Regions from separate parts of the Homo sapiens genome. Here region 2 is linked to region 1. A link means that fine-mapping ties the variant in region 1 to the expression of a gene that starts in the linked region. Tissue or cell type: whole blood. Region 1 holds a variant in brackets; the other region holds the start of a gene. All regions are shown on one strand. Distances are between the middles of the regions.

What was found. PIP is the estimated chance that this variant, and not a neighbour inherited with it, causes the effect. A credible set is the group of variants that fine-mapping cannot tell apart.
Region 2: it holds the start of ALAS2, and the variant in region 1 is the best candidate, but not a certain one, in a credible set for the expression of ALAS2 in whole blood (TOPMed, PIP 0.90).

What each region holds. Positions count from the first base shown.
Region 1 is chrX:55,008,029-55,010,707 of GRCh38, forward strand. It overlaps APEX2 (apurinic/apyrimidinic endodeoxyribonuclease 2), which reads left to right. Exons shown (of 6, transcript NM_014481.4): 6 at 1-1,029. It overlaps ALAS2 (5'-aminolevulinate synthase 2), which reads right to left. Exons shown (of 11, transcript NM_000032.5): 11 at 1,027-1,315. The coding sequence ends at 1,152. Among named protein-coding and RNA genes, the nearest start is that of APEX2, 9.0 kb to the left of the region's middle. RefSeq lists an enhancer at 1-42. The variant G/A (reference allele first, on the strand shown) is at 1,028.
Region 2 is chrX:55,029,500-55,032,186 of GRCh38, forward strand. It overlaps ALAS2 (5'-aminolevulinate synthase 2), which reads right to left and starts at 1,478. Exons shown (of 11, transcript NM_000032.5): 1 at 1,443-1,478. It also overlaps a transcript of PAGE2B not described here. RefSeq lists an enhancer at 1-1,483.

The sequences.
Region 1 (2,679 bases):
TTTCCAGCTAGTGCGTCCCACAGCTGCCACAGTGGGTTACAGGGTTGAAAGAAACGGTCCTCAGCCCTCAGAGTTGCCAGGCAGGGCCTGGGACCACACAAGTTTCAGGGACGATTGCCTCCTTAGCAAGTAGTATCATTAGTACCCCTAAGTGTGCCATGGAAATGTTTCCTGTATACTGTGACCTGGAAAGTGGGAGCATTGCTTTGAACACAGTGCTTGCTCTAGCCAAGCCTCTTCTCACCTTTGAAAATGGGACTGGTAGACCAGGCACAGTGGTGCACGCCTGTAATCCCAGCACTTTGGGAGGCTGAGATGGGTGGATCACCTGAGGTCAGGAGTTCGCAACCAGCCTAACATGGTGAGACCCCGTCTCTACTAAATACAAAAAAATTAACTGGGCGTGGTGGCGCGTGCCTGTAATCCAAGCTACTTAGGAGGCTGAGACAGGAGAATAGCTTGTACCTGGGAGGCGGAGGTTGCAGTGGGCTGAGATCATGCATTGCACTCCAGCCTGGGCAACAAGAGTGAAATTCAGTCTCCAAAAAAAAAAAAAGAAAAGAAAAAGAATGGGACTGGTAAATCCTGTTCTGTGGGATGCCGTGGGAGGGAGAGAGGATAATGGATTGAGGAAGACATCCATATCCCCTTATGGAAAATACCTCTTTGGTTTTGGGGAACCACTCCTTTCTAGGGAATTTGGTTAGGGCTGACTCATTTCCTGGCTTCAGGGGCTACCCTGGGCCCAGATTTCCAGGGCCCGGATTACCAGTGAAGCGTCAATCCCTGGATTTTTATTGAAACCATTGGAGAAGAGCCATCTCAAATAAATCTGCCAAGTATCCTAGCTCTTTGCAACTCACTGTGTAGTTTTTGGGCATTTCCTTCCTCTTTCTCATTCTGTTTCCCTGTTGGTAAAATGGAATGGTGACCAACAAGTGACCTATGGTTACCTCATAGATCTGCCACTTGTCTGAGGGAGTCAGAATGCACTTGTCTGTTCCCTGTCCAATAAAAGGCTTCACAT[G/A]CTGTGGTTTGTGCTTTATTTTTAGGCTCAATTCAGCTAGAGGCACACAACAAAGCAGAAGACAGGAGTAGGCCTGGACCCAAGTGAAGCGCAGGTGGGGTGTGAATCCTAGGCAGCTGGCTTCTCAGGCATAGGTGGTGACATACTGGGGCCCCATGTTCCCGAAGTAGGAACGTTCCCACTCACTCATGAGCTCAAAGTGTACAGGACGGCGACAGAAATTGCAGGCAGCCACAGACACATCCTGGAGGGGCAGCCCCACCGCAGTCCAAGCCAGCAGCAGCTTCTCTGAAGGTGGTAGGGGGAGGGGAGGGAAAAAATGGGTTAGACTAGATCTTCCAAATCTGTCACAGTACAGATGAGCCAAGATATTGATCCCCCTCAACCCTTCAAGATACCTCAGGGCCAGAAGTAGCCTACTGTTTGCTTCTGTGTGTGCCGTGAATATTACCATTTGTATCTGGATGCTGGGATATATATTATAAAAGATTTGGAAGCTCTCCTTTGACACAATTTGAAGCCATACTGTCCTGGCCTGGACCACTCCCTAAGTATAGGATGTGCTGTGGCCCAAGAATGACTGTCTGCTTGGGAACTCTAAGCCCTATGAGGACAATGATAATGACAGTAACTATACTGTGTCATTGGTGCTATGACCAGGAAACCTGGGGTAGGGGGTCCACCTGGGGGTGTGAAAACCCAGAGAAGGGAACCTGACCTAGCTGGAGGAAGTACCCCAGGTACGTTCCAGGGCTCTGTTCTTGGCCTTTTCTGTGTTCATGCCCTTGTTGATCTTGTCTAGTCACATGACTTTAAAGACCATCTATATGCTGATGGTTCAGAAATTTTAATCTCCAGCTCACGCCACTCTACTGGTTTCCAATCTTGTATATCCAATGGCTTTTCTCCATCTCCACCTAGATGTCTAATATGCATTTCTAACTTAGGAGTACAACTGAGCTACTCATGTCCCTACCCTCCACCAAGCTATTCTACTTTTAGCTTTTCCCATCTCAGTGGATGGCAATTCCAGTTGCTCAGTCCAAAAATTTCAGAGCTATCCTTTATTTTTCTCTTTCTCTCTTACCCTATATCCCATCTATCAGCAAAGACCCTTGGCTCTACCTTCAAAATCTGACCACTTCTTATTGCCTTCATTATGATCAAGTCTGAGCCACCATCATCTCTCACCTGGGATATTACTGTAGCCCACTCTTGGGTCTCCCTGCTTCCACCCTTGCTCCCTTTTAGTGTATTCTCTACATAGAAGTTGGAGCAATTTTGTTAAAACCCGAGTCAGAAATATCAGTCCTGTGTTCAAATCCTTTCAAGGGCTCTCAGAGTAAAAGCCAAACTCCTTCTAATGGCCTACCATACCCTATACAATCTGGTCCCACATTGCCTCTATGTACTCAATTTTTCTGTCTCCCACTTGCTTATACCATTCCACCCACACCCATCTTCTTACTGTTCCTCAAATATAAAAGGAATACTCCTGTGTCTTCCCTGCCTTAGGATGTTCCCTCTGCCTGCGATGCCATTCCCTTAGATATCTGCCTCACTAACTTCACCTCCTTCAAATTTTTGCTCAAGTTTCACCTCAGCGTCTTCTACCCTTGCCACTCTAATACTACAACCCTTCTCTGAACTCG
Region 2 (2,687 bases), 21 kb after region 1:
AACCATTATGGATCTGTGATTCAAATATTACTACCTTTTTTTCTTGACTGAGGGCCTGACTCTAGACATTTATCTCCTCTGCTGCACTAACATAGGCCTCTTTCCAGGTCATATGCCATTTGTCACCAATGCCTTACCAAAGGAACAGATCTGTAACTACAGTGGAATTTCAGGTACTGTTGAATATTCATTTACTCTACCATTCAATAACTTATGTACCTAATGTGTGATAATGCTTGCCAGGCATCTTCTTAAAACAATACTTTTAACCAAAGAGATGATGGTGAAATTTGAGACCAAGTAACAGATCATTACTGAAAGTTTTTCCCTACGACTTTAAAATCCTCTCTTGTGTCAGCACCCAATCTGTACTCCCAGAGGTGAAAAGGGCCAACTGCAACTCTACCCCAGCAGACAGCCAGAAAACACTCATTGCAGCATTCCTTGTCCCCCACCCCCCCACCCCTTTTGTGGCCTGCTTTGCAAAAGTCAATTAGGTCTGGAAGGGAAGTGGTAATTTCTCTTCAGGAGTTGGAAACATCAGGCCTTACTTCTCTTCCTAGTACCCCTTTCCCACCATGAAAGAATCATACAGAACTTTAGATAACTGTAATCAGAGAATCAGAAATTCTTAGAAACAGGAAAATTTAGAAGATCACAAAATCAAAACTAGAAAGGGTGGTGGAAATTACAGGCCAAGCCTTTTTTTCAGAGAGTGAATGACTTGCCTAGGGTCTCACAGTGAATTAGGATGAGAATAGAAATCTGTTTACTTTCTGTATAGTGACACTACATTCCTCTTCCACTTTCTTCACTTATTTCTGCTAATTATTCATCTCTCAATTCCCCAAATCTCTCCTTACCCAATTCATCATTCCCATCACCCCCACATCCTCTTAGTTTCCCTCCCTAGCTCTTCCCCCACCCCTAGGCTCCCCATGGGCTCTGACCCACTGAGCTCTGCTGTCAGCCCAGCAGGTAGAGGGAGTCAAAGGGAGAGAGGAATGGGGAATTGCAGGAAGAAATATTAAGCCATCGTTCTTGATAGAGAGGAAGAGAGAGACAGAAACACAGAGACGGAGAGATACAAAGCCGAGGAAAGAGACAAAAAGGGGGAGAGAAAGAAATTTAGAGAAAAAGATAGTTAGAATTCAGAGGGAAAAATAAGAGAAAGCAAGAGTGTCAGAGAATGATGAAATGAAATGAATGATCTTGAAAACTAACAAAAGAAAGTAACGAAGGGAAAAAGAGAGAAAAAAGCTGAAAATGAGGAAAGACAGAAAGAGACATGGGAGATAAAAAGAAAATGAAAAAGAGACAGATTCTAAGAAACAAACAAAGGAAAAAGTCAGATCTACTCAGACCAGAGAGTCAGTGTGTACAGCCCTGAGAGACCAGCTGGCAGACCAGAGATAGGGTGCCAGGCTGAAAGCAGCTCTTACCTGTTGCCCTGCACTGAGGACGAACGAATGACAGGTGGGTACTTGGGTTAGGACCTGGCATTTATCCCTTCTCCTCTGACTCAGCCCCACCCACCCTGCCTTCTGCCGGCCTGGCCCTGCATTGGCCCCAAAGGTATCTCAGTCCCTTCCTTGCTAGAGATAAAACCCAAAGTAGCCCCTCCCTCTAGTGTACCCCCTCCCCCAGCTCTGGCTCTTCCCTATTTTCTTCTCTCTATAGGACAGTAAAATTAGCTCATTTGGGCTTTGGAATCAGACCATCCACATAGAGCTGGGATACCTTGAGCAAAACCACCTCTCTGACTATAGATCTCCTCAACTATAAAAGGAGGGCAATAAAACCCAGAAGTGACTGTGGCACAAGTTGGGAGGGCTCTGGAGTCAGACCTAGAATACAGTGTTGTGCTTATGAGCTCAAACAGTCAGCTTCCACAGACTAGATCCCCGGTTGTTGTAACAATTTGGTAATATCATGTATGGAAAACGCATACCACAGTGCCTGGCCCAAATAAATAACACCTACTGTTGACTGAGTGCTTACAATGCACCAGACCCTTCACTAAGTGCTTTACATGAATTAATTTAGCCACATAAGGACCTTAAAAGATAGGTACTATTATCCCTATGTTACAGATGAAGAAACTGAGGCTCAGAGAGGTGAGGTAACTTGTTGATAATTACCCAACTAGAAAGTACAGAGCCCGCCTATGAACCTAGGCAATGTAGTTACAGAACCCACACTCTTCTCTTCCTCTCATAATATACAATTAAAAATGTGAAGTTCTCTGTCTTATCTTTTCTATTACCTTCTCCTCCCTTTTTCATTTTCTTCCCCTTTTGTCACTCTCTTTTTCCCCTTCCCTTATCAATCCTAAGGCAGCAGGACCATGTTATAACCAGACAATTTCATCTTTAGAGCAGATTGTCATCATTAATATTATATTTACATAAATAAGACCATAGTCTACATATTGATTTGCAATTTCTTTTTTTTGTTTGTTTTTCATTCAACCATATGCCAATATACCATGGAGGTTACAAAATCTGAATGCACTGTAATTTATTTAAACACTCCCTTATTGATATAAATTTAGGTTATTCCCAAGGATTTTCCCCCCTCCATTATGATTAATGTTGCAATGAACATCTTTTGGCATTTGTGAGAGCATTTTTTTAGAGGGTGGCATCCTAAAATATAAGCATTCCTGGATCTAAAGGTAATAGACA